4 separate regions of the Homo sapiens genome follow, and regions 1, 3 and 4 are each linked to region 2. Evidence: fine-mapped expression QTL. A gene starts in region 2. Each other region holds a variant in brackets. All regions are shown on one strand. Distances are from middle to middle.

The links. PIP is the estimated chance that this variant, and not a neighbour inherited with it, causes the effect.
Region 1: its variant is fine-mapped to the expression of NFXL1 in whole blood (TOPMed, PIP above 0.99).
Region 3: its variant is fine-mapped to the expression of NFXL1 in whole blood (INTERVAL, PIP above 0.99).
Region 4: its variant is fine-mapped to the expression of NFXL1 in whole blood (INTERVAL, PIP above 0.99).

Annotation. Positions count from the first base shown.
Region 1 is chr4:47,736,987-47,745,336 of GRCh38, forward strand. It overlaps CORIN (corin, serine peptidase), which reads right to left. Exons shown (of 22, transcript NM_006587.4): 5 at 7,416-7,597. Among named protein-coding and RNA genes, the nearest start is that of MIR8053, 88 kb to the left of the region's middle. The variant T/C (reference allele first, on the strand shown) is at 4,480.
Region 2 is chr4:47,911,012-47,919,361 of GRCh38, forward strand. NFXL1 (nuclear transcription factor, X-box binding like 1) reads right to left here and starts at 3,572. Exons shown (of 23, transcript NM_001278624.2): 1 at 3,354-3,572; 2 at 2,958-3,194. The coding sequence starts at 3,192. It overlaps LOC101927157 (a long non-coding RNA gene), which reads left to right and starts at 3,216. Exons shown (of 3, transcript NR_125879.1): 1 at 3,216-3,693. RefSeq lists enhancers at 2,440-3,126, 3,127-3,812, 3,323-3,552.
Region 3 is chr4:47,994,400-48,002,749 of GRCh38, forward strand. The region is part of intron 2 of CNGA1 (cyclic nucleotide gated channel subunit alpha 1); the gene reads right to left. Among named protein-coding and RNA genes, the nearest start is that of CNGA1, 18 kb to the right of the region's middle. The variant C/T (reference allele first, on the strand shown) is at 4,068.
Region 4 is chr4:47,945,563-47,950,562 of GRCh38, forward strand. It overlaps CNGA1 (cyclic nucleotide gated channel subunit alpha 1), which reads right to left. Exons shown (of 11, transcript NM_001379270.1): 6 at 4,271-4,333. The region is part of intron 1 of LOC101927157 (a long non-coding RNA gene); the gene reads left to right. Among named protein-coding and RNA genes, the nearest start is that of NFXL1, 33 kb to the left of the region's middle. The variant C/T (reference allele first, on the strand shown) is at 3,044.

The sequences.
Region 1 (8,350 bases), 170 kb before region 2:
CAGGAGCCTAAAGAACTAAGCAGAAAACTTCAGAAAAGTAGAATGGAAATTACAGAAATTATACTGCTCTGAGCAGAAAATAAAATAAAATTTGGAACTACTCAAGGAGGAAGGGAATATAGTAAGCCTACCAGTTTCTCAGTTGAGACTACTGGAGAACCACACTCTCAGAATGGAGAAAAACCAGAGGTAGACGGAGCCTTATAACAATGAGGCAAAATCAGCTTAGTCTCTGATTAAATTAAGGCTATCTGGCCCCATATGTGCCTAGTGATCATATATGTGGCACATACGTGTGATCATATATGTGTCTGGCCCATATCACATATACGATCTGGCCATATATGTCTACCCTTCAAGAATCTATTGCTACATTTGCTGGCCCACTGCCTTTAGCTGTCAGATCCTTCGGGTTTTGCCTCAGCTGTGGAACACTGAAGAGATCTGCCTCACTCAGTGGCACACTCTTCCCAGGAAGGACCACATCCAATGACTGATTGAGGTGGAGACACATAGACTCAACTATTTTGGATCAACATGAGATAACTCTTGTAGGCTTAATACATTCCAGAACTCCCCAAGGATTTAGCTGAGGCTTTGGTGGGCCTGGATCATATTTCAACTCCTTCTGCCCAATTCTGCTTTCTCTCCCTCCCTTAACACAAAGGCTGAAGCTTAATAAATACTCTGTACACCAAACTCCATCTCAGTTACTATTTGCAGAAAACTCAACTTTTAGCACCTAGTGTCAGACATGGTCTAAGAAAGCAGGTGATAAGATATGGTTATTGATCTAGATAACCTCACAACTACATCAGCTGTGAAAACTAGCAGCCAAGCAGCCACTAGAAGGGGCAAAACATGCTTGGAGCTCTCCACAATGCCCCATTACCAAAGAATTGTCATTATTTTTCTTGTCTGTTAGCTCCCTGGAAACTCAGAGCAAATGTGATTATTTGACCTGAATAAGAGCTTACTCAGTGCAAAAGCCTTTTCCCCGGGGTGTTTCTAAAAAAAAAAATTAATAATCGATTAACACTGTAACTGTCTGAGGTGGGGATATCACTTGGGGCAAACAAGAAGCTAACCAGAAAAATTAAAAGAAAAATGTGGGGAATTCCTGTAGGAAAATTTGAAAAGCTCTAATACATTGCTGAGAATCTAGAAGATCCCATGAATGTGCAGGACTATGCATATACCTAAGAAGGACCCAGAAAGGCCCAAATATCTCACCTGTGGCAGACATTGAGACCCTGTACAAGCAGAAATTTAAGGATAAGGCAGAGCTGTAAACTCTGCTATAGTATTGACTGCTATAGCATTGACTCTGCTATAGTGTCGACTCTGCTACAGTACTGACTATGCACCCTAACATGCACAGAATCCCTTGGCAAAGACTAGGATATATACCTGTTAAAGGCATTTAAGGAAATTCTGTCCAACCATTAGTTGACCACTAGGCTGCTATCTGGGCAAAAACTTCAGTGGCCAGACATGACAAAGAACAAACTTAACATAATTTGTTTCAGGGAACTCACTGAACAAATAAATAACAATAATTAAAGCAACAAGAAACAGAAACAGCAACTAATGTTGGGGGGAAGAATTCAACTTGCAGAGTTGAACATTATATTATTTTAAATGTCCAACTTTCAACAAAAAATTACAAGATGTCCAAAGAGACTGGAACATATGCCCATATAGAGGGGGAAAAAACAGTCAACAAAAACTGTTCCTGAGGAAGCTCAGACATTGAATTTACTGGACAGACTTTTAAATCAGTTATTTTAACTCATTCAAAGAACTAAGGAACACATTTCTAGAGAACTAAAGGGAAGTATAAGAGCAATGGCTCAAAAAATACAAAATATTAATAAAGATATATAGATTATTTTAAAATATTAGAAATTATGCAGTAAAATATATAATAACTGAAATTAAAAATTTACTAGAAAGACTTAACAGCAGACTTGATCAGGCAGAAGAGAAAATCCGCAAACTTTAAGATAAGTAAGCTGAGATTATCTAGTCTAAGGAACAGAAAGAAAAAAAAGAAGAAAAATTAAAAGGTCCTTAATGACTTGGAGGATGTACCAACATACTCATAATGGGAGTCCCAGAAAGAGATAAAAGAATGAGTCAGAAAGAATGTTTGAAGATATAATAGCTGAAAACTTCTCAAATTTGGAGAAAAACATACATCTGCATAACAAAGAAGTACAAAAATTCAAATAAACTCTAAAGGATCTACACTTAGACACATTGTAATTAATCTATCAAAAATCAGACACAGAAAATTTTGAAAACACTGGGAGATAAGCAACTCATCAGATAAAATGGAGCTTCAGAAAGGTTAACATCTGACTTCTCATCCAAACTGAGGAGTCCAAAAGGAAGTGGGATAACATATTCAAAGTGCTGAAAATAAAAGACTGTCAAACAGAAATTCTATGTACAGCAAAATATCCTTTCAAAATGAAAGACAAATTATGATATTCCCAGATAAACAAAAGTGGAGAGAATTTGCTATTAACAGAACCACCCTGTAAGAAGTACTAAAGGAAGTCCTTTGGGATAAAATAAAAGGACAGTATACAGCAACTTGAATCCATATGAAGAAATAAAAGGTATTGGTAGAGGTAATTAAATAGGTAAAAGTAAGATAAAAGAAATGTATTTTTTCTATAAATCTTTTATTATCCTATCTGATTCTTAAAAACAACTGCATAAATAATTTATAATCATAATCAATAAACCTATGTTGAGATTATATTATATAAAGATGTAATTTGTATACATAATGGTACAAAGAAGGAAAAAGAAACAAAGCTATACAGAAGCAAAGTGTAGATATTGTTGAAATTCGGTTAGGATTCATCTGAACTAGACTGTTATAACTTAAGACGTTAATTTTAAGTTCCAGCACAACCAATAAGAATAACTAAAAAAAATAGCCAAGCAACAAGAAATTTAAAATGGCACACCCCAATATATCTAACACAAAAAAAGTCAGTAATGAAGGATCAAGAAATACAAAAGTCATAGAGAAAACAAATTTCAAAACAGCATATGCAAATACTTATAATTACATTAAGTGTAAATGAATTAAACACTACAATCAAAAGGCAGAGATTTGTCTCATAGATAAAAATATGAGATTCAATTATATACTGTGTGTAAAAGGCATACTTTATATTCAGAAACACAAATAGGTTGTAAGCTCAAAAATGGAAATTTTTAGGTGCCTATGTGTTTACACATATTTTCTATTGCTGGGTGGAGTGTACTACAGATGTCTATTAGATCTCATTGGTTTATCGTGCTTTGTAAGTCTTGTATTTCCCTTTTAATCTTCTACCTAGTTCTACTCATTATTGACAGTGGAATATTATGGTTGAATTGTCTATTTTTCCTTCAGTTCTGTCAGATTTAAGTATTTCTGGCTCTGTGTTATGTTTTCCTGACGAATTGACCCTTTATCATTAAAAAATCCCTCCTCTTTTCTGATAACAATTTTGTTTTAAAATCTATTTGATCAAATATTAGTATAGCCATTCCAGCTCTTTTAGCAAAGATTGAATGGTATATTTACATATGTAATCTTTATCAAAATTATAGCTGAATTTTTTTCAGAAATTGACAAGTTAATCCTAAAATTTATACAGAAAGGCAAGGGACCCAGGATAGCTAAAGTAATCCTTAAAAAGTTAAAGTATGCACACTTCATAATTTCAAAATGTATTGCAAACTGTGGTAATCAAGAAAGATAGATAGATCAATAAAAAATAATTGAAAGTCCAGAAATAAACCCATACATCTATGGCCAATTGTTTTTTAACAAGGGGCTCCAAGTCCATTCAGTGGGAAAGAATAGCTCTTCAACAATACATACTAGGACAACTGAATTTCCATACGCAAATGAAAGAAGTTGGACTCCTACTTCACAACATACAGAAAAGTTAATTTAAAATGGATCAATGACTTAAATATAAGAGCTAAATCTATTAAAATCTTAAAAGAAAACAAAGGAATAAATAATTAGTCACCTTGTATTAGCCAATTTTTAAAATACATACACTAGAAGCATACACAACAAAAGAAAAGACAGATAAACTGGACTTCCTCAAAGTTAAAAACTGTTGTTAAAATGAAAACAGCCCCCGAAGAATGTAGGAAGATATTTGAAGATTATATAGCTTAAAAGGCACACTTGCATCCAGAATATATAAAGAACCTGACAATTCAACAATTTAAAGAGGCAACCTAATTTTAAAATGGGCAAAGTATTTGAATAGATATTTCTCAATATAAGGCATACAAATGGCTAACACTAACAAGCACATGACATGTTGCTCAACATAATTAGTCATTAGCAAACTGCAAATCAAAACCACAATGGGATACCACTTCACATCAACTAGGACAGCTATAAACAAAAGAGACAAGTGTGGTGAAAATGTGGAAACACTGGAGCCCTCA[T/C]ACATTGTTTGTAGGAATGGCATTTCCTCAAAATGTTAAACATAGAGTTAATACTAGTCACAGCAATTCTACTCCTAGGTATATAGCTGAGAGAATTAAAACAGTATGTCCACACAAAAACACAAAATCTTATACGCAAATATTATACAGACAGCATTATTCATAACAGTCCAAAAGTGAAAACAGTCCAAATATTCCTCAATTAATGTATGGATTTTTAATGTGGTATATTCCTACAATGGAGTATCAATTGACAATAAAAATGAATGAAGTACTAATAATACATGCTACAGCATATATGAACCCTGAAAATATTTTGCTATGTGAAAGAAGTCAGTCACAAGAGTCCCATACTGTATGATTTAATTCATATTAAATGTCCAAAATAGTCATGTTTATAGAAACAGAAAGTTAATTAGTGTTTACCAGGGGCTGAGGAGAGGGATAGCAATTTACTGCTAATGCGTGTAGGTTTCTTTCTAGGGTGATAAAAACATTCTGAAATTATTATAGATGATTATGATGGTTGTACAATTCTGTGTGTATACTAAACCACTTAATAATATACTTTAAAGAGATGAATTTTATAGTATGTGAATGATCTCAGTAAAGCTGGCATTTCTAAAAGGTAACTAGCATAATATGAAAAAATAATACATCATCTTAATAGATATAGAAAAAAATAATAAAATTCAAAACCCATTCAGGATTTTTTAAAAAGTCTTAGCAAACTACAAATAGAAAGAGCTTCCTTAATCTGACCAAGAGTATCCTAAAAACCCTTCACCAAACATCAGAATTAAAGGTGAAATATTGAAAACCTTCTTCCTGACATAGAAGAAACAGAAAGCAGAATGACTGAAAAGGAGGAAATAAATTGTCATTATTTTAGATGACATGATTGTGTACTTAGAAAATTCAAATGAATTTACAGACAAATTATAAAAATTGTTGAGTGATTTATCAAATTTCTTGGATACATAAAAACAGAAAATAAAGGAAATGTTTTAAAAATATATAATTTACAATAACATCAAAAATACCAGATACCACAAATAAATCTAAAGATGTGCAAGATCTCTATGGTTAAACCTATAACACATAATTGAGAGAAATTTTAAAATGCCTCATTGAAAATACCTACTTAAATATTACCATAGTATATAATTGTTATGGTTGGAAGACTGACTGTTGTAAAGAAATTTTCCTGAATTTGATCTATATATTTAATGCAGTCCCAATTTAAAAACAAAACAAAAACAAAAACAGCATTTGTGGAAATTACATAGTGATTTTAAAATTTACATTAAACGCAAAGGGCCAAAAATAGTCAATCTTTAAGAAGAACAAAGATAGAGGACATATAATATTCAATATAAAGATGCTATAAAACTATAGTAATCCAGATAGTGTGGTATTGTCTTAATTCTATTCTGTCAATTAGAGGGTTCAAAAATAGATATACATGTAATCATTCACTTGATTGATAGCAGCAGTGATATTACAGTGCAGAGGGAAAAATTGTCTTCTAAATAATTAAATGGTGGTGGGTCAATTGAATATACACATAGAAAAAAATTAATTCCTATCTTTTACCTTTCACCATGCACAAAAAATAATTCCAGAATTATAGTAGATGTAAAACTGAATGTCAAAACAATAAAGATTCTAGAAGAAACATAGGAGAAAAACTTCTATGTTTGGGGGTGAGCAAAGATTTCTTAAGACACAGAAAAAAAAAACACAAAAGAAAAGATTGATATTATGGACCCATTAAAATTAAGACCTTCTATTCCATCATAGATGCTAATAAGAGTAGAAAGGCAAGCCATAGGGCATGAGATCTTTGCAATACATATATCCAACAGATGACTTGTATCCAGAATTCATACAAAACTATAAACTGAAGACAAAAAGACAGACCATCAAAAAATAGGCAAAATATTTGGACAGACATTTCACAATACTCCCATCAAAATTGTTAAAATGAAAAAGACTGACAATGCTAAAGATTGGGAAGGATTTGGAGCAACTACAACTTTTATAAGGAGCTGGTAAGAGCATAAATTGGTACAACCACTTTAGAAAACTTTTTTGTTGAATAAATATAACCATATTCAATTAAAGACAGGCACAAGAGGCTGGGAACGGTGACTCATGTCTGTAATCCAAACACTTTGGGAGGCCAAGGTGGGTGGATCACGACATAAGGAGTTCAAGACCAGCCTGGCCAACATGGCGAAACCATGTCTCTACTAAAAATACAAAAGTTAGCCAGGCATGATGGCGTGCACCTATAATCCCAGCTACTCGGGAGGCTGAGGCAGGAGAATTGCTCGAACCCGAAAGGCAGAGGTTGCAGTGAGCTGAGATCATGCCACTGCACTCCAGCCTGGGTGGCAGAGCAAGTCTCTGTCTCCAGAAAAAAAAAAAAAGACATGCACAAGAATAGTAATAGCATCACTGTAATAGCTGAAAATTGGATACAATGCAAATGTCCATCAACAGTGAAATGGAAAAATATATTTTGGTTCAATCATATATTAGAATGCTGTATAACAATGAGAATGAATGAACCACAATATGAAGATGTAATTAATTTCTTGAACATAATGCTGAGCAAAAGAAGACAGGTTTTAAAAAGTTACATATTGTATGATTCCATTTATATGAAGTTCAGAAGTAAGCAAAACTAAGGTGATAGAAGTAAGGATAGAGGTTTCTTTTGGAAGGGTGAGATATGACAGGCAGCGGGCTTGAAGGCATTTCTGGGGATGTTGTTAATATTCTATTCCTTGATCTGGGTTCTGGTTACATGGATCTTGTCACTTGGTTAAAATTTATCAGACTGTACACTTATTATTTATATCCATTCCTGTATAAATGGCATACTCAAATAAAATCTTCTAAAAATGAAATGAAACACAGACACCTACATTGCTTTCCGTTTTCCTGCTGAGGTGAGAAGCAAATTCTGCTGACATTGCTGCTTTCAGTTTGGTTTCTAAACTGGGAGCATCTGAGGAAATCCGGCCAGGAGTAATTCACCATCCCCAGGACTGATTCACAGCCTTCTTTTGCAGCCTCACAGAAGGACCTACAGGGCAGGAGTCCATGACTAAAAAAAAAAAAAGAGAAAGGTGAAAATTAGTGTCTTTACAGAATAGGTTTTGAAATAATAGTGAAATTAAAGTTAGCCCCTGTGTTGTGATATTATCTTAATTTATACTTACTATAGTCAGCAACTTAAATTTTTACATTCAGTCCTATGACAGTGATTTTAGCTATTCTATGGTCTTGATTCTAGAAGAAATAGCTAGTTCCACATCATCTAACTATTTCTTGTAGGAACATTTATCAATAATTTGTTTAATATTTACTGGGCTAAAATATATAGTTGTCAGCCTAAAAGAGCTCTATTTAATATCAAAAGGGGAAAATTAACATGGAAACGAAGGCCCTCAGATTGCAAAGGAAGAAGTAGGTCAAAAATATGTTATTCTTGTATTTTTATCTTCCCTTTGAGAAATTCAAGTATCTCTGAGTGGCAGCAGAGAGTAAGCTGTTCCATTATTAACTTCCCCAGCCTCCCTGGAAAATGAACATTATACAGATGAGTGGCAACTTGGAAGACCTTGTACAGTTATTTATCTTTTCAGATTTCTAGTCTGTCATCTGCAAAATAAAAAAAAATGCACACAATTGTCTGTTAATAGTATGAGTAATGATGCCCCCAGAGCTTATCTTTATTCACTTAACATGCCATGAAACAGTCCTAGATCCATAGCTCTGTGGATGGAGATGGGATACTAACAAAGTCAAGGCCACGGACTTGCTTCCTTGCAGACCCAGGTAATTGTTTCTACTTTAC
Region 2 (8,350 bases):
GTTTCATTTCTGCAAAACAATCTCTCAAAAAGAAAAGCATAATGTGCTAATATATCATTTTACAACACACATTTGAAAGTCACCTTTGGAGCATTCTACCTTCCTGTAATCCACGAGAAAAGTATTTTCAAATTCCTTGACACACAACTAAAGAGAATACCACAACAAAAACTTTCACTTTTCTAAGTATCCTGCTAAAATGCAGCAAATTTTTATGATAACGGTGATTAACAAATCAAGAAAAAAAATATGAAAATACAATAAAACTATCAAAATACTGGTGATCAACTTCAAAATAAGGACTAACAAAAATTAAGATGTTTTAAAGTACATTGTGCACAGTAATTTTTAAGAAGTGAGGGAACATGTCCACAGTGAGCACATAAAGAATCAGGGAAGGTAGGTATTTCAAACTACCGTCTTCTGAACAACAGGTAGGATAGGACACGACGGCCCAGCCCAGTCCAGTCCAGCCCTACCAAAGAGTTTGTACCAACAGTACTCACTATGCACCCACTATATTTACAATCGGCTTCTTAGGTCAAGAACTTTTTGCCTTTATTATGGACTTCTTGTGGTCACACAAAAAAACATATTTTACATTAATCCACACAAAGTATTAACATGGAAAACATGTTTCTTCCAACTTCATTCCAAAAAGAATGTTAATTTTGGATTCGTTCTTCCACTATTCAGCACTACCTGTACTTCTCATTTTGTTACTTGATTAATCATGCAAAACAAAACCAGATTACTTCACTGCACATACTCCCAAAGAAACTTCAAACTTCTTGAGAGCAAGGACCACAGGGATTTTCTTCAAGCACTAAGTGTTAATAAGCTCTTACGGACAGCAAACATAGTTTAAGAAAGGAGCCACAAACCTGCAGAACTGATCTGAGTTCATGAATTCCCATCTTGAGAGGATTTTAAATTTACTGATTGACTATTTTAAAATTAACATTATACTTAAAACTGATAAGCCACTACCAAGATAAGCTCTCTTATCTTGGGTGGTATATTCGTACTTGATTATGTTCCCTCATGAAACATTTTCCTTTTCTTATTGCAGCCAGTTTGGTTAGGGGTTATTAACAAAACAAATTGAGTATTTCAAGTAAACCTCGACGAAAATGTGTATCATGCTTACCTAGCAAGCTTTGAGTACTGGGAAAAAAGAACTGGCTATGAGATATATAACTCAAAACTTGTCACAAAAGAGATGATAAATGTCATTAATATACGGGAAATTAGCACTTAAAAGATACATAAGAAAACAGGCTGAACTGGACAGAGATAATGAGAACATTCATAACCTGATAAATGTATTCACCTAACATCATCTCAAAGTAAAGAGAAGCTGACAAGACAACCTTCTCACGTATTATTTCTTACAGCCAAATCTCAACTGTCCAGGTAGAGAATGCTTGTTTTCTTTTTCTTTTCTTTCTTTTTTTTTTTTTTTTGAGACGGAGTCTTGCTCTGTCGCCCAGGCTGGAGTGCAGTGGGGCAATCTCGGCTACTGCAAGCTCCGCCTCCCGGGCTCACGCCATTCTCCTTCCTCAGCCTCCCGAGTAGCTGGGACTACAGGCGCCTGCCACCCCGCCCGGCTAATTTTTTGTATTTTTAGTAGAGACGGGGTTTCACCCTGTTAGCCAGGATGGTCTCCATCTCCTGACCTCATGATCTGCCCGCCTCGGCCTCCCAAAGTGCTGGGATTACAGGCTTGAGCCACCGCGCCCGGACAGAATGCTTGTTTTCCTTCTACCCACGAGATGGAGACCATCCTGGCTAACACGGTGAAACCCCGTCTCTACTAAAAAAAAAAAACCAAAGAACAAAAAACAAAACATTAGCCAGGCGTGGTGGCAGGCGCCTGTAGTCCCAGCTACTCGGGAGGCTGAGGCCGGAGAACGGCCTGAACCCAGGAGGCAGAGCTTGCAGTGAGCCGAGATTGCGCCACTGCACTCCAGCCTGGGCGACCAGCGAGACTCTGTCTCAAAAAAAAAAAAAAAAAAAAAAAGTTTACCAAACCTGTTCACACGTCTCCATATTGTATACCTTATCATCACGGCCATTAACTGCATGCTAAGAGAATACCACCTACCTTTCAAATTAGCCTAGGAGAAAAATCATTCAAGATACTCAATTCTGCTCCACACCCCCCAAAAAAATGTATCCTGAAATGCATTCCAAACACAAAAATAAAATGATTTCAGGGATTATTCCCTCGGCCCCATGCACAATTGTGTGTAAGTCCTCCCTGGCTCCACGAAAACATGGTCTTGGATGAAAAGTATTGATATATCGGAGGCAACACCAGATATGTCCACAGAAGGACATGGAATTTGTAAATAGGAACTACAGTCAAGGAAGGTATCAAAAGCTCAAGTGCTTACAAGGAATAAGACAAGTCAAGAAACAAAGGCAAAGGTAAAGATGACAAATGACACCTGGCTCCAGAAATGAGAGAGAATGTGAGATGGAATGCCCAAGTCCAATCTAAATGGGATTTCTGTGACTCAGCCGAGCTGACTGTTGCCATGCACAAAGATAACTAAAGCCACAAGGTTGTTAACCAGATTTTTAAAAACGACAAACAACCGCTGACAATCAATCCACATTTAAAACTCTGTGTTAACCAAACAACATTATAGACCAAATCAGAACACCGGGCCACAATTTACAACTGATGGTCTGGAGATTCAAGTAGGCAAGAGTGGAGGGAAGTAACAAAGGTAATACCACCTAAAATTAAGATGAAAGAGGTGCGATGGAAATCTACCTAGAGTGCCGAAAAGAGCAGCCACCCGAAAGGCTGGAGAAGTGGGCCCGATAACAAACTCCCGAACGAGGGGAAAAGCAGTGAAAGAAAGAAGGCGAGGGCGGAGGCGGTCCTGACTAGTAACTGCCTTAGGAGGCATCCAGGTGAGCACGCGGGCGGGAGCCATTCTCACCGCTGGCTGCGGTAGTCTGCAGGGCTTGGGATCCTGCGGGGCTGTGCCTGCTCCCTGCAGCCGCCGTGGTCGCGACTCCTCCGGGACTGGTGCCAGAAGGAACTGCGCCCACCGACCCCTTCTCTCGCCCTCCTCCGGCGCCGCGGAGATGGACTCCATTTCCTGAGGGGGCGGCAGTGGCCCGTCCCCGGGATCGGCCTCGGCCACCGGCCACCTGGCGCCAGGAAGCTTCCATCCCTGCAAAGGAGAAAAAAAAAAAAAAGAGTGGAAGGAGGTGAGCGCAGCGAGGACCGAGGCGAAGGAGGGTCAGTGCGGAAACCCGGTGTGAGGGGCCGAGTGAGGAAGGTTCCTGCAGGGCGGCGACCGGGTTTTAGGAGGTCGCGGCCCTGCCTTTACCGGAGGGCGAGTCCCCGCCAAGCCCGGGCTTTGGAGATGGACCGAAGAGGGGAGGGAGGACTAGGTACAGAAATAAACCGCGGAGCAAGAAGCACACAGTGCCGAAGACAGAAAGCCGGAGGAGAAGTCGAAACCGCCTCCTCAGCCTCTGCGGGAGCGTGGTAGGGGAAGAGTCACAGACTGACCCTGCGTCTCCCGCCGGGAACCAACTGCAGTGGTACACCCCACGGAAAGCTACGTCTCCTTACCGACTGCGCACGCCCCCAACAGACTACAACTCCCAGAAGCCCCCGCCCGCGTTCCGGCGACTGCGTGGCAGCACGGGCCGCTTCCTTATCCGGTAAAGTGCGGGGGTTGGGTGGGAGGGAAACCCCAAGCGCCTGCGCTGGCCCGAACAGGCCTTTGGGAACTACAACTCCCGGCGTGCTCTGGGGCTAGGGAGGGGTCGAAGGTCATAGGGGCGCGTGGTGGTGGAGGCGGGCGGGTCCGGAGGGTTTCGTGACCCCACAATTTGCTTCTGCTTCTGCAAGACTGCCCTAAACTCACCTGGGTATGAGGATTACATGGCTCTGTCCCTAATTGGCTCTCTGCCATCTTTTATTAGCCTTGCCTTTGAGCTTGCGGATGACAGGAGGTGTCAATGTAAAATAATCAAAAGCGCGAAGTTTGAGGATAGCCTACCTAGAAACACCGACTCCAAGGAAGGAGTCAGCGTTCCGAAGTAGAGATTTAAGATTTCACTTATATAGGCAGAAACTGAGAGGTTTTTTAGCAGGATTACAGCATTTTCTCATACAAGGTTAGAGAATAGTTACAACAATTTGATTATAGACAGTGTTTCTTTTTGGGAAGTGTACATTTAACATTTTTCATAAAGGATTTTCTGTCATCTGGTCTAAGCAAACCGGGGCAACAAAGCAGAAGTTAATCTATAAGGATCATTAAGAAGGCAGGAAGTTTTTGTCCTTAACTTCGTTTAATTCTCTCTAGCCATTGTATAGAACAAGAAAAATAAGAAAGCAAGTTAATCTATAATCTGAGAAACAGAAGTTGTAACCACGTGTAACTCAGATGACAGTCACATCTCTCTCCAGGCTTAGTGAGTTTTAGGCTCCAACAACCTTTAAACTATTTATTTTCATAGGGAAGTCTCACTAACAGGAAAGGCACTTACATTGAAAACGCTTTGAGGTTGGCCACTGTGAAGGAGGGAAATTCGGGGGAGAGTTGCAGGAAAGTGGCTTGAGTAGTAAAAGTACCCTTCTAAAATGCTAGAGCCAATGTAGAAAATAAATCTAAAGCCTGTTATTGTCATAGTCCTTTGTAGTGTGCAATGAGCTTTCCCTGGGACATGCTAATTTTTACCTTCACAGCATCTCCCTAAAGTAGATTTTGTTAAGGAAAATAGTTGAGGGCCAGGACCTAAATCTTATGATTTTGCTGAGTTTTCCAATAAGATACATGTGCATATATACTGACAGGTAGATTGCAAAAATTCATTCTGGGGTCTGTCTGGGATTGAGAAACATATTGATGGCTTATTGTACAGTCCTTCAACTTAGTTAATTCTTCTATTTTAACCATAAATTTCTATTATAATATTTAGATAGCATTTATTAGATGTCAGGCACTGTTTAAAGTGTTTTACGTTATGTATTAACTAATTTGGTACTCACAGTAACCGTGTTTATTATCCCCGTTTTACAACTGAGAACACTGAGGCACAGAGAGATTAAGCAATTTGCCCTTGATCATACAGCTAGGAAGTAGTGAAGCCAAGATTCAATCCTAAGTAGTCTAGTATTAGAAACCATGCTTTTAATGTCTTAAACATAGATATTGCAGAATTGCCTGTACATTAACCAAACTCAAAAATGACATCCCATGGCCAGGCATGGTGGCTCACGCCTGTAATCCTAGTACTTTGGGATGCCAAGGCGGGTGGATCACCTTAGGTCAGGAGTTTGAGGCAAGCCTGGCCAACATGGCGAAACCCTGTCTCTATTAAACATACAAAAATTAGCTGGGCATGGTGGTGGGTGCCTATAATCACAGCTACTAGGGAGGCTGAGGCAGGAGAATTGTTTGAACCCAGGGGGCGGAGGTTGTAATGAGCCAAGATCGCGCCACTTCACTCCAGCCTGGGCAAAAGAGCAAAACTCCGTCTCAGAAAAATGAAAAGAAGAAAAGAAATAACATCTCTGAGAATGATATAACTTCATTGGCTAGAAACTAACAGGTGCACAGCAACTCTCTTAATGCTGCACTTGTATAAGAACTGTAAGTTTAAAGCTGCAACCAGCTTTCAAAGTTTGAAAACCCTAAAGTGAGACTTTTCTTCAGTGGGGTTTTCACATACAGGAAAGGAGCTGTTATACTCTGAGAGAGAATATAGTAATTATCACTGAGTAATGTCCAAGAAGTATTGAGTGGCTACTAAAAAGAGAGATCCTTCTTAGAATTATGTTATATGCCAGAGAGCTGGACTAGCATATTATCTAAATTTCCATGTCAAACTTTATTGAGAAATTTTTTCTGTTCCCTCAAATATTCAATAGCTAATAACAGTGACCAGCAATCCTTGAGTGCTTTCTATGTGCCAGCATTCTTCTAGGTCCTTTTTTCTTTTACTCATCTAATCTTCACAATAACCATGAAGTAGGTATTGTTATCGTCAAAACAATTTTTTTTTATTATACTTTAAGTTCTAGGGTACGTGTGCACAATGTGCAAGTTTCTTACATAGGTATACATGTGCAATGTTGGTTGGCTGCACACATCAACTTGTCATTTACATTAGGTATTTCTCCTAAAGCTATCCCTCCACCAGCCCCCCACCCTGCAACAGGCCCTTGTGTGCGATGTTCCCCTCCATGTGTCCATGTGTTCTCAGTGTTCAACTCCCACTTATGAGTGAGAACATGTGGTGTTTGGTCTTCTGTCCTTGTGATATTTTGCTGAGAATGATGGTTTCCAGCTTCATCCATGTCCCTGCAAAGGACATGAACTCATCCTTTTTTATGGCTGCATAGTATTCCATGGTGTATATATGGCACATTTTCTTTATCCAGTCTATTATTGATGGACATTTGGGTTGGTTCTAAGTCTTTGCTATTGTGAATAGTGCCTCAGTAAACATGCCTGTGCATGTATCTTTATAGTAGCATGATTTATAATCCTTTGGGTATATACCCAGTAATGGGATTGCTGGGTCAAATGGTATTTCTAGTTCTAGATCCTTGAGGAATCGCCACACTGTCTTCCACAATGGTTGAAATCATTTACACTCCCAAGAACAGTGTGAAAGCATTCCTATTTCTCCACATCTTCTCCAGCATCTGTTGTTTCCTGACTTTTTAATGATTGCCATTCTAACTGGCGTGAGATGGTATCTCATTGTGGTTTTGATTTGCATTTCTCTGATAACCAGTGATGATGAGCATTTTTTCATATGTCTGCTGGCTGCATAAATGTCTTCTTTTGAGAAGCGTCTATCCATATATTTTGCCCACTTTTTGATGGGGTTGTTTTTTCTTGTACTTTTGTTTAAGTTCTTTGTAGATTCTGGATATTAGCCCTTTGTCAGATGGATAGATTGCAAAAATTTTCACCCATTCTGTAGGTTGCCTGTTCACTCTGATGATAGTTTATTTTGCTGTGCAGAAGCTCTTTAGTTTAATTAGATCCCATGTGTCTATTTTGGCCTTTGTTGCCATTGCTTTTGGTGTTTTAGTTATGAAGTCTTTGCCCGTGCCTGTGTCCTGAATTGCATTGTCTAGGTATTCTTTTAGGGTTTTTATGGTTTTAGGTCTTACATTTAAGTCTTTAATCCATCTTGAGTTAATCTTTGTGTAAGGTGTAAGGAAGGAATCCAGTTTCAATTTTCTATATATGGCTAGCCAGTTTTCCCAGCACCATTTATTAAATAGGGAATCCTTTCCCCATTTCTTGTTTTTGTCAGGTTTGTCAAAGATCAGATGGTTGTAGATGTGTGGTGTTGTTTCTGAGGCCTCTGTTCTGTTCTATTGGTCTATCTCTCTGTTTTGGTACCAATGCCATGCTGTTTTGATTACTGTAGCCTTGTAGTATAGTTTGAAGTCTGGTAGCCTGATGCCTCCAGCTTTGTTCTTTTTGCTTAGGATTGTCTTGGCTATGTGGGCTCTTTTTTGGTTCCATATGAACTTTAAAGTAGTTTTTTCCAATTCTGTGAGGAAAGTCAGTGGTAGCTTGATGGGGATAGCATTGAATCTATAAATTACCTTAGGCTGTATGGCCATTTTCACGATATTGAGTCTTCCTATCCATGAGCATAGAAGGTTCTTCCATTTGTTTGCGTCCTCTTTTATTTCGCTGAGCAGTGGTTTGTAGTTGTCCTTGAAGAGGTCCTTCACATCCCTTGTAAGTTGTATTCCTAGGTATTTTATTCTCTTTGTAGTAATTGTGAATGAGAATTCACTCATGATTTGGCTCTCTGTTTGTCTGTTCTTGGTGTATAGGAATGCTTTTGATTTTTGGACATTGACTTTGTATCCTGAAGTTGCTTATCAGCTTAAGGAAATTTTGGGCTGAGACAATGGGGTTTCGTAAATATACAATCATGCCATCTGCAAACAGAGACAATTTGACTTCCTCTTTTCCTAATTGAATACCCACCTTTATTTCTTTCTCTTGCCTGATTGCCCTAGCCAGAACTTCCAATACTATATTGAACAGGAGTGGTGAGAGAGGGCATCCTTTTCTTGTGCCAGTTTTCAAAGGGAATGCTTCCAGTTTTTGCCATTCAGTATGATATAGGCTGTGGGTTTGTCGTAAATAGCTCTTATTATTTTGATACGCGTTCCATCAATAACTAATTCATTGAAAGCTTTTAGAATGAAAGACTGTAGAATTTTGTTGAAGGCCTTTTCTGCATCTATTGAGTTAATCATGTGGTTTTTGTCGTTGGTTCTATTTATGTGATGAAATATGTTTATTGATTTGCGTATGTTGAACCAGTC
Region 3 (8,350 bases), 83 kb after region 2:
GTTGGACAAGGCCTTTTATCATTATATAATGTTCCTCTTTGTCTTTTTAACTGCTGTTGCTTTAAAGTTTGTTTTATCTGATGTAAGAATCCTGCCTGCTTTTGGTGTCATTTTGCATGAAACGTCTTTTTCCACCCCTTTATCTTAAGTTTATGTGAGTCCTTATGTGTTAGGTGAGTCTCCTGAAGGCAACAGACAGTTGGTTGGTGAATTCTTATCCATTCTGTAATTCTTTATCTTTTAAGTGGAGCATTTTGGCCATTTACATTCAATGTTAGTATTGAGATGTGAGGTGCCATTCCATTCATTGTACTACTTGTTGCCCATATACTTTGGTTTTTTGTTTTTTAAATTGTATTTTTGTTTTATAGGTTCTGTGAGATATATGCTTTAAAGAGGTTCTGTTTGATGTGTTCCCAGGATTTGTTTCAATATTTAGAGCTCTTTTTAGCAGTTCTTGTAGTGGTGACTTGGTAGTGGTGAATTCTTTCAGCTTTTGTTTATCTGAAAAAGACTGTATCTTTCCTTCATATATGAAGCTTGGCTTCACTGGATACACAATTGTTGGCTGATAATTGTTTTGTTTGAGGAGGCTGAAGATAGATAGAATCCCTTCTAGCTTGTACAGTTTCTGCTGAGAAATCTGCTATTAATCTGATAGGCTTTCCTTTATAGGCTACCTGGTGCTTTTGTCTCACAGCTCTTAAGATTCTTTCCTTTGTCTTAATTTTAGATAACCTGATGACAATGTGCCTAGGTGATGATCTTTTTGTGATGAATTTCCTAGGTGTTCTTTGTGCTTCTTGTATTTGGATGTCTAGGTCTCTAGCAAGGCCATGGAAATTTTCCTAGATTCTTCTCCCAAATATGTTTTCCAAACTTTTAGAATTCTTAGATTTGGTTGGTTAACATAATGCCAGACTTGTTGGAGGCTTTGTTCATATTTTCTTATTCTTTTTTGTCTTTGTTGGATTGGATTAATGCAAAGACCCTGTCTTCAAGCTCTAAATTTCTTTCTTCTACTTGTTTAATTATGTTGCTGAGATTTTCCAGAGCATTTTGCATTGCTCTAAGTGTGTCCATTGTTTCCTGAAGTTTTGATTGCTTTTTATTCTTGCTATCTATTTCATTATTTCTCCCTTCACTTCTTGTATCATTTTTTTTTATTTCCTTAAATTGGGCTTCATCTTTCTGTGGTGTCTCCCTGATTAGCTTAATAACTAACCCCCTGAATTCATTTTCAGGTAAATCAGGGGTTCTTCTCAGCTTGGATCCATTGCTGGTGAGCTAGTGTGATTTTTGGGGGGTGTTAAAGAACATTGTTTTTTTATATTACCAGAGTTGGTTTTCTGGTTCCTTCTCATTTGGGTTGGCTCTATCAAAGGAAAGGTCTAGGGCTGAAGGCTGTTGTTCAGATTCTTTTGCCCCACAGGGTGTTCCCTTGATGTAGTACTCTCACCCTTTTCCTATGGATGTAGCTTCCTGAGAGCCAAGCTGTAGTGATTATTATCTCTCTTCTGGATCTAGCCACCCAGCAAGTCTACCAGGCTCTGGGCTGGTACTAGGGGTTGTCTGCACAGAGTCCTGTTACATAAACCATCTGTGGGTCTCTCATCTGGGGATACCAGTACAGTATTTGGAGTGTTTCCTGGGTCCTGAAGGAGCAATCCACTTCCTTCAGAGAGGTCTCTGGGTACTCCCAGGTTTCCTGATTTATTCCTACAGTCATTCTGGTGCAAAAATTCATGACACGAGCCTCCACACACTGCTCTGTCTATCTGAGTCAGAGCTGCAATCTAGTCCTGCCTCCCATCCACCATGATCCCTCCTCTTAGGGAGTAAGTCCTCCAGCCCTCAGCATGATTGGGGTGGCCTCAGAGACTTGCAACTGATGTTGATAGCTCCTTGGAATATTGGAAATTTAGTGGACTTGAGATTTGCATCCTGGTTTAGATTTTGCATCCTGGTTTGCTAATTTAGATTTGCATCCTGGTTTGCTAATTTCTGACAGCACTGTAGCCTTGGGAAAATTATTTAACTGCCCTGAACCTTGTTGTTGCCATTTTTTATTAGCATAATGGGAATAGATTCTTCTAATCAAGGTATGGTAAATAGAAATGATTGACATAAAACTCTTCACACCAGGCCTGGCACAAATTGAGTCCTTAATTACAGTAAATATTAAGATTATTATTATTTTCCTGTGAGATAGTTCCTGGAGCTTATTATTAAATAATTCATTGTAATTGTATTAAGTTTCTGGTTAAATAACATAATCAAATACAAAGGGCTCAAAGAAATCCAGAGTAAGGAAAAAAAATTATTGGGGAAGAGAGTATGGTTGTACCTGAAAATTTTAAGATTTTAAGTCTTTTAGGGGCTGGGCACAGTGACTCATGCCTGTAATCCTAGCACTTTGGGAGGCCGAGGTGAGTGGATCACCTGAGGTCAGGAGTTTGAGATCAGCCTGGCCAACATGGTGAAACCTGCATCCCTACGAAAATTTAAAAAATTAGCTGGGCTTGGCACACATCTGTAGTCCCCCAGCTACTCAGGAGGCTGAGGCAGGAGAATCACTTGAACCCAGGAGGTGGAGGTTGCAGTGAGCCAAGATTGTGCCACTTGACTCCAGCCTGGGCAACAGAGTGAGATTCTGTCTGAAAAAAAACAAAAACTTAGGTAAATATGAAATCACGCTAACCTATATAATGTTGTGCCTTAAATATACCTGAAGACTTTTGCAGAGTCCATAGTGGAAATATTGTTGCTTATTACCCTTCCCCAAAACTGGCTTTCAATTTAGCTTTCTCAGACATGACAAATTATCTATGTGATATAAGCCTCCTAACTTTTGTTGCTGCTGCCACTTCTTCCACAGGCCTACCCCTAACATTAACAGAACTGGGGCAAGAAAACAAATGGATATCTATGTACTACATTACTAAATATTTAAAATCAAACTAATGAGCTGTTAAAATGAGTTTTTGTCCTCACCTTGAAAAACAAACCTTCATAACCAAAATATTAAAAATCTATAAAGCAATGATTTTAATATGATTAAAACCTAGCAAAATGTCAAAGACAACTGGATTTAATTATTATTGTACATGTCTGGTTAGGTCTGTTGATGGGTCAGGGGTACTCATATTAGTAATAAAATAGAGATATACATAAATGTAAGTTATTATGTATTATATATAATTTACTTTTCTGCCTTCTCAGAAAAATACTAAATATATTGTGATAATCAAGATTTTACATTATTTGGTGGTAGTGCTGTTTCACAACGCTTTGAGTCATTACAGATTGTAGTAATTTTTATAAATTCCTACTTGTACAAACTTTGCATTGTCTCAACACAATTTATAAAATGAGACAGCTTCACAAATAAATCATGAATTTTAAATATTATATTCAAACATTGCAGTGGGCTCCCACAAATCAACAATAGATGCTTCTTGACTTAAAATGTGATTATGTCCCAATAAACCTATCATAAATTGAAATAATCATAAGTTGAAAAGGCATTTAATACCCCAATACACCCACCATAAAGTAGAAAAATCATAAGATGAACCATCATAAGTAAAGGAACATCTGTATACTGTAGTCTAAGTTTTTGCTCATGAAAAAGTAGCTTGACTTCAAACTGGACAAAATGCACAAAACAACAACAGAAGTATGGCATTAGAGAAATGGGGGAAAAATGAGTTGAACCCTGTCCAAAGACCATTTTTAATCTGTGACATGAGAAAAATAAACCAAGCACAGCCCAGCAGTCTTGTTTAGCTAAGGAGTCAGAAATATGACCTTGGAGATTGAAGTAGCCAGAATTTTCAGAGCAAAGTACTAGAGAAGAGGAAGCAATGTAGAGAAAGAACCAGAAATCTGCAGAGAGGTCTTTTCCAGTCTTTGTGGAATGCTAATCTGGACATGCATAAATGAAAATTCCACAGACTGGACAAAGAATAACTTCCAAGGTATTAACAGTTAAATAATCCCAAAACTCACACAGACCTTGGAGATATTCAAGTTACTACCTGTAGACTGGAGAGATTCAGTGAAGA[C/T]CTCAGGCATTAATAATGCTTACATGGACTTGGCACAGTGGCTCATGCCTTTAATCCCAGCACTTTGGTAGGCTGAGATGGGCAGATCATTTGAGGTCAAGAGTTCGAGACCAGCCTGACCAACATGGTGAAAACCCGTCTCTACTAAAAATACAAAAAAAATTAGCTGGGCAAGGTGGCACATGCCTGCAGTCCCAGCTACTCAGGAGGCTGAGGCAAGAGAATCGCTTGAACCTCAGAGGTGGAAGTTGCAGTGAGCAGAGATCACACTGCTGCACTCCAGTTGGGCAACAGAGCGAGACTCCATCTCAAAAATAAATAAATAAATAAAAAATTTAAATGCTTACATGAAAAGCCACACTTCAATAGCAGGGCTAACCTAACTCTAGGTTAAAGGATACAGTACCCCCTTATTTGTGGTTTTACTTTCAACAACTTTATTTACTTGTGGTTGAGCATGGTCTTAAAATATTTAATGCAAAATTCCAAAAATAAACAATTCATAAGTTTGACATATTATCAGAAGGTCAATAGTAGCCTGATGCTATTTCACAATGCCAAGTCATTCACCTCCTTCGTCTCATCACATAGGCATTGTATCATCTCATATCATCACAAAAAAGGTGAATATAGTATAAGATGTTTTGAGAGAAAGAGAGAGAGACCACATTCACATAACTTTTCTTAAAGTATATTGTTATAATTGTTCAATTTTATTATCAGGTGTTAATCTCTTTCCATGCCTAATTTATAAATTGAATTTTATCATAGGCAAAAATACATAGTGTATATAAAATTTGGTACTGTCCATGGTTTCAGGCACCCCCTGGGGGTCTTGGAACATATTCCCTGCAGATAAAAGAGAGCTATGATACTTTCAATCTGCCATATAAGTCTTAAAAGAAGCTCATAAAGGATCAAACTAATTTGCAAATAATTCAAATTCCTTCCCCTCTTTTAAGGAGGCAATAAAATCCAAACACTTCACAATATGGACTAATAATGTCTGGCATTCAATCAGAAATTACTAGACACATAAAGAAGCAGGAAAATGTGACCCATAATCAGGAAAAAAATCAGTCAATAGCTGCATACCCAGAAGTGACAGAAATCATGGCATATGTCTGGGAACAGTAGCTCACACCTGTAATCACAGCACTTTGGGAGGCCGAGGCAGGTGGATCACCTGAGGTCAGGAGTTTGAAACCAGCCTGGCCAAAATGGTGAAATCCCGTCTCTACTAAAACTTCAAAAATTAGCCAGGTGTGGTGGCACTCGCCTGTAGTCCCGGCTACCCAGGAGGCTGAGGTAGGAGAATCACTTGAACCCAGGAGGCAGAGGTTGTAGTGAGCCAAGATCATGCTCCTGCACTCTCCAGCCTGGTGACAGAGAGAGATTTCATTTCAAAACTAATAATAATAATAATGGATTAGCAAACAAGGACATTAAAATATGTATTATAAATATGCTCAAGAATTCAAAATAAATCATTTATATAATCAACAAACAAATTTAAAACACAGGAAAAAATAACAGAACTTCTAGAAATTAAAATATCTGAAATTAAAAATTTATTAGATGTCTGTTCAGTAGAATAGAAAATGTAGATGATAAAATCAGTGAATGTGAAGACATAGCAATTGAAGCTGCCAAAATAAAGCAAAAAGAGATAAAACATTGGAATCTTAGTAACTCATGGAACCATATTAATTGGATCAACATGTGTAATTGGTACCCTAGAAGCAAGGAGGTAAAAACAAATATTTGAAGAAATAATGTCCAATAATTTTCCAAATTTGATGAAAAGTATAAAATTACATATTCAAGAATTTCAATGAACCCCAAGCAGAATAAAAACAAATAAAATCACTTCAAAGCAAATAAAAGCCCAATTACTAACAATAAGTGTTTTTTTTTTTTGAGACAGAGTTTCGCTCTTGTTGCCCAGGCTGGAGTGCAATGGCATGATCTCGGCTCACCGCAACCTCCGCCTCCCAGTTTCAAGCGATTCTCATGCCTCAGCCTCCCAAGTAGGTGGGATTACAGGCATGTGCCACCACCCCAGCTAATTTTGTATTTTTAGTAGATACGGGGCTTCTCCAGATTGGTTAGGCTGGTCTTGAACTCCCGACCTCAGGTGATCTGCCCACCTCAGCCTCCCAAAGTGCTGTGAACACAGGTGTGAGCCACCGTGCCCAGCAACAATAAGTGATTTTTTAAAAAAATTAAACAGCCAGAGGGAGAAAGTAGGCACATTACATACAGTGGGGGAAGCGGGGGGGTGGGAAGGATAATCACAGACTTGTAAATGAGAAACAATGTAAGCTTAGAATATAACAAAGTAGTATTTTTAATGTGCTGAAAGTAAAGAAATACTGTTAATTTATACTTTTGTACCTAGGGAAAATAGCTTTTGAAAATAAAGGCAAAATACATCTTTTTCAAACAAACAAAAACTGGGAGAACTTATTGCCAGCAAATCTACATTATAGGAAATATCAAAGGTACCAATCTTTAGCCTTGAATCTAACCACATCAATTTTTATAAAATATGTACTCAGACTAAAAGGCTAATTAAAAGCAAAGATTTTCAGATTGGTTACAAAAGTAAAATGCAACTAAATGTCATTTATGAGAAATAAGCTTTAAATAAAAAGACACAGATAGGTTAGATGTAAAGGGAAAAAAAAGGCATGTCATAATAATAAATGTTAATAGGCTGGGCACGGTGGCTCAGGCCTGTAATCCCAGCACTTTGAAAGGCCAAAGCAGGTGGATCTCTTGAGGTCAGGAGTTCGAGACCAGCCTGTTCACCAACATGTTGAAACCCCATCTCTACTAAACATACAAAAATTAGCCAGGTGTGGTGGCATGCACCTGTAATCCCAGCTACTTGGGAGGCTGAGGTAAGAGAATCACTTGAATCTGGGAGGTGGAGGTTGCAGTGAGCCAAAATTGCACCACTGCACTCCAGCCTGGGTGACAGAGCAAGACTCTGTTTAAAAAAATGCTAATAACACAGCTGATTTAGCTATATTAATATCAGACAAAGTAAATTCCAAATCAGAAAGTATTACCAGAATAAACAGGGACATTTAATAATGATAAAATTGTCTATTAATTAAGGAGACATAATAATCCTACTTGTGTTTGTATCTAATGACCAAGTTAAACAAATTTAAAAATTGGCAATAAACTACATTTAGAGCAAGCAACTTAACCCAATTGACATTTCTAAAACACTACACCCAGCAACTGCAGAATACACATTCTTTTCTATTTAACTTGGAACATCCACCAAGACAGATCATATGCTGGGCCATAAACCAAATCTCAACACATTTCAAAGAACTATTATTGTTCAGAATATGCTCTGTGTCCAAAAGAGGATTAAACTGATAACCAATAACAGAAGGATATCTGGAAAAGCTGCAGTTATCTGGAAATCAAGGAACACATTCCTTCATAACCCATGGGTCAAAGAAGAAATTGCAAAGAAAACTTTAAAATATTTTGAACTAAATGATAATAAACATTATTAATAAACACAATATATCAAAATTTGTGGGATGGAGCTAAAGCAGTATTTGGAGGCAAATGTTAGCTTTAAACATTTGTAGTGAAAGAGAATAAAGGTTTAAAATCAAAGTCTAAACTTTCACCTTAGAAACTGGAAAAAGGATAGCAAATTAAACTCCAAGTAGAAGGAAGGAGGTAATAAAAATAAGAGTAGATATCAATTAAAATTTAAAAATAGGTAAGGAAAATCAATAAAGGTAAGAGCTAGTTCTTATAAAGATTCATAAAATTGAAAACCTCCTAACTAGACTGATTGAGAAAAAGATTACCAAGTATAAGCTAGGTACAGTACTAGGCTGGACAGCAACATTTTTGCAAAAAGCCTCAAGCCCCACTCTGTAAAGACAGACCACAACACTGTAGTAGAGAAAGTTTAATAGATACAAGACTAGTCATGCCACATGGGAAATGGAGTTTGTACTCAAATGATCTCCTCCAAAGGTCTTAGGTCAGGGGTTTTTCAAAGGCAGTTTGGGGGAAGGGAGGGGGTGGCCAGGTAATAGGTGCTTGCTGTTGATTGACTGGGGTGGAGATGAAATAGGCGTCAAAGCTGCCCTTCTGTGGGCTGAATTGCTTCTGGGTGGGACCATAGGAGCTGGGTTGGCTGGTCCAGGTGGAGCCGTGGGTGTCAGACATGCAAAAAAAAAAAAAAAACAAAAACAAAAAACCCTGAAAAGATATCTCAAAAGGCCAGTGTTAGGTTC
Region 4 (5,000 bases), 33 kb after region 2:
GTAATAATAGATTCCTGGATGAGATATGACTTATGGTGTTTCCCACTGGGTCCACAGACCCACTACTATGTGATCATTTCTCCAGTTCCTAAATGTAAAAGTGAAATGTATGTAATTCTTGAATATAAAAGTAGAATGTATATAAGTTCCTGAATATAAAAGAGAAATGTATATAATTGTATAAAATCATGCATGGAGGAGTGGTGGTCTCTCTTAATTTCCCCATGTAATTTATCATCTGACTCCCACAAAAACCAAATAGATCCTAGTGGATGGCAGAGAGACTACTGCAAAATCAACCAAGTAGTAGCCCCAATTGCAGCTGACATGTCCTATGTGGAAAATAACACAGTGACCCACTCTGTGATCATTTCTCCAGTTCCTAAATGTATAAGTGTAATGTACATAATTCCTGAATACAAAAGGGAAATGTATATAGTTGGTCATCGGCACAACTCCCACCCCTACCCCACTAGTTCCTTGGCTTGTGAGGAAAGAGGTGTAAGACCGAGGAGAAGCCCTTAAGCTGCTTCCCACCTTCTGGCCAAAAGCAACATTGCATCCTGGGGAGAAAAAGAAATGCCATCCTTAAAGACCTAATGCATGCAGGGGTGGTGATCGCTCTTCATTTCCCCACATAATTCATCATCAGACCCCTGCAAAAACCAAATGGATCCTAATGGATAGCAATAGACAATTGCAAAATCAACCAAGTAGTAGCCCCAATTGCAGCTGCTGTGTCATATGTGGAAAACAATGCATTCACTTGATATACACTGCATACCTAAGGTTCTGGGTCAGTCATTGTGAATGTCATTTTTCATTACTATCAGGAAAGAGGATCAGACATAGCTCATACTCACAGGGGATAACAAACTGTACACACCTACACTCTTTTCCAAGGCTATATTAACTTTCTTTCCTACTGTCATGACAGCCTTGAGGGACCTGGATCACGTGGACATTTCTCAGAGCACCACATTAGTCCACTATATCTGCATCAATGGCATTCTGTTAGTCAGGCCCTGAAATAGGATTACCTAACCATGGGACATAAAAAGAATGCCCATTATGAGATGGATTCTGTCAGAAACAACAATTCATAATGTATCAATCCGTCATATGATGAAGTAAGATATCTGGGATTGAGCATGAATCAGAGCAAATAAGTAAGCTGCCCAGGCAGGTGGCTCAGTACCCTTCGTCTTTTTCTTTCTTTCTTTCTTTCTTTCTTTCTTTTTTTGAGGAGTCTTGCTCTGTCACCCAGGCAGGAGTGCGGTGGCACAATCTCGGCTCACTGCAACCTCTGCCTCCCAGTTCAAGTGATTCCCCTGCCTCAGCCTCCCAAGTAGCTGGGACTAAAGGCGTGCACCACCACACCTGGTTAATTTTTGTATTTTTAGTAGAAATGAGGTTTCACCATGTAGGTTGGCCAGGCTGGTCTCGATTCCTGACCTTAGGTGGTCTGCCTGCCTCGGCCTCCCAAAGTGCTGGGATTACAGGTGTGAGCCACCATGCCCGGCCTTCAGTACCCTTCTTTATGTCATTTCCACGTTGGAAATTTCCATTTATTTTCCACTATGTCATTTTCCACTCAGCACCTATTTATCAGCCCCCACCTGTGGTCATATGTGGGGTTCTTTAGAAGGAGCTGATACAGCATGTTGCATAGATGGGTCAGTTTAGAATGTGGATGCAAGCCAAAATGGTCTGTGTCTGCACCACAGCCTCACTTAGAGGTGGTCTTGAAAGTGTGAGGTTAATTTCCCCAATGGCACAGCTTCAAGCAGTATACAGTCATCTAGTTTGTATGGAAAAAGAAATAGCCCAGACTGGGTCCGATGGCTCAAGCCTGTAATCCCAGCACTTTAGGACGCTGAGGTGGGAGGATCACGTGAGGCCAAGGAGTTAGAGACCAGCCTGGCCAACATGGCGAAACCCCACTAAAAATACAAAAATTAGCCAGGCGTGGTGGCTCACGCCTGTAATCCCAGCTACTTGGGAGGCTGAGGCAGGAGGATCATTTGATCCCGGGAGATGGAGGCTGCAGTGAGCCAAGATTGCACCACTGCGCTCCAGCACAGGCAACTGAGTGAGTACCTGTCTCAAAAAAGAAAAGAAAAAAAAAGGGAAAAAGAAATAGCCCAAATTAAGAATATACATGTGTAAAAGGACTCGTGGGCAGTCACAAATGCCTTGACTGGTTGGTCAGGGACCTGGATGGAAAACGATGGAAAGATCAGGGAAAATATTTCAGAAGAGGCAGACTGAATGGACATATTATGAGTGTGAGCACAAAGTTTGAAAATCTTTGTTTTTATTTGTCTGTTTTTTGCTCGTAGTGAACATGCCTGTTACAGAGACCAATGCTATGACTCCAAAACAGTGCTTTCTCCTGAGGAAAGTAATCAGTCACTTGATGGCAAGTTAACTAAATTGGACTCCTGACACCATGGAAGGGGCATCAAATATATTGATAAGAACTGACATATATTATGACTATTCATTTGCTTTTTTGCCACAGGGCTTTGACCAGTGCCATTATTTAGGGGCATATGAAGCATGATCACTATATATGAAATATTGCTTAACATCACTTTGGACCAAGGACCCACTTTAAGGCAAAAAAAAAAAAATGTGGCATTGGAACCTGAGTTTGGGATCCAGTGGTCCTATCATAAGCTGCACACCTTTGTCAGCTACTGACATGATAGTTAAGGAGGGACTTTTTGAAACCACAGCTGAAGTGCTATCATAGAGTTTATACTCTAGGAAGAAAAGGTGCCATCCTCTAGGATACTGTATATATGCTAAAACAATGATCATTGTATGGTTCTCTATGCCTGTATAGAATGCATTGGTCTGGGAACTATGGGGTCTAAGTAGGGGTGACAAATGTAGGAAAGGTATGTTTCCCATTCTTGCAACTTAAGGATCTATGGATCTAGAGGTCCTGGCTTCCAGAGGGGTGATGCATCTGCCAGGGAATGCCAGAGTTCCATTAAACATTAAGCTACGGCTACTCCCCAGCCACTTTGGTCCC[C/T]TCATGCCCAACAGGCAAGGAAGAGAGTCACCACACTGGCAAAAGTTATTGACCGTGATCATCAGAAGTAGGCAGTGCTGTATACAATGCAGGGAGGGGAGATGTATTTGCACCTAGGTGGTCTTTTGGTATTTTCCAGCCCAGTTTTGGTGGTAAATGGGCAAGTACTGTAGCCATGACTCAAGAAGGGCATGGTGACCCAGGGCTCAAGTTCTTCAGGGATGAGTGTCTGTACTGTTCCACCAGCTAAGTCATCTAGACCAGCAGATGTGCTGGCTAAGGGTGAGAGGACCCTAGAATGAGTAGAAGCGGAGAGGGTGAAGAATTTCATTTGAGGCCTCAAAACCACCTGCAACTGCCAGAGACCTTAGTTTAATCCCATTAACTTTACTCTTATAAGCTTTCTCAGGAAAAAATAACCAGGATCCTGGAGTAGGTATTCCCACATGGGGTGAATTTTCTATATAAACAAAATGGATCTGGGCAGCACACGGTTGGGCCATACAGTGGCTATGCAGGTGGTGCACAAAATTCAGGCACTCATTCCCCACTTGCCAAGAGTGTTGGTTGCTGTCAGCTCAGTTTTTCCTCTCCCTTGGCTGGCCTTGGCTGAAGGAAACCACCATGCTCCATCCAGATGGTTATGCTCCATCTTCTAGGGCCAACTTTTTTCCAATAACTGTGCATGGGAACAAAGGCCCAAGTCTATTACCTAAATAGGGACAACTCTAAAAGGTCATCCCTGCTCCAGGGATCCCCAGAGAATCACATTGTACATCAGCTCTATTCTCTGAAGTTCGACTTCTCCCTCTGCCCAATACTGACCCCCAACTCCCTTCCAGATATTGTTCCCAAGACCATTCCCAACAAACTTCTGCATACAAGCCTCCATCTCAGAAACTGTCTCCTGAGGAAATTCACCTAAGACACATTGGCTCAAACTGGAAAGGAGTAATATTTCCTGACAAAAATTCACTTATTTTTGTCAGTCACTCTATTCACAGAGAAAGTCAACTGCATGAACACTATAGACATGATTTTTTCTACATGTATTCAAATAAATGAATGAACACTACTTTTCAACAAAATGATAAGACTATCATTGCCATTGTATTAGATCATTTGATTAATAAATGTTTCCTCTATAACAGATTCAGATATATTCCTACATTTTTACTGGTTTTCTTTAAAACCAAAACTTTGGTTTTCTATTGTAAATATACTTACTGGTCCTTATTGCTGCTGTTGTTCACATTAAAAAGTGCAATGGCACCAGGCAGGTACTGCTCCCTGGGAAATGAAAAACATGCAGTGAAATCACAGTAGTCACCATCTGTATAATGTCCATGGTAGGCAAATGGTCTGAAAAAACAAATTCTTCTCCATTTCTACTCATTACTAAAGACTATGTAGATGATAGATATTTCAAAAACATATTATGAAGCATAAAGCATAAAAGTATATCCTGAGCCTCCATGAAGCATGACTTGCCAAATGCCAGTGTCTTGAACAAACATAGTGATATGGTTTGGCTGTGTCCCCACCCAAATCTCATCTTGAATTATAGCTCCCATAATCCCCACATGCCACGGGAGGGACCCAGTGGGAAGTAATTGAATCATAGGGGTGGGTGTTGCCCATGCCATTCTCGTGCTAGTAAATAAGTCTCACAAGATCTGATGGTTTTATAAAGGGCAGTTCCCCTGCACATGCTCTCTTGCCTGCCACCATGTAAGACATGACTTTGCTCCTCCTTTGCCTTCTGCCATGATTGTGAGGCCTCCCCAGCCATGTGGAACTGTGAGTCCAGTAAGCCTCTTTTTCTTTATAAATTAACCAGTCTCGGGTATTTCTTCATAACATTATGAAAATGGACATGGTTAGTAAATGCATATCAGTCAATGTTCATACCAAGAATTAGCTTAAGTGAACCAACCTCAATGCCAGTAACTCCCAA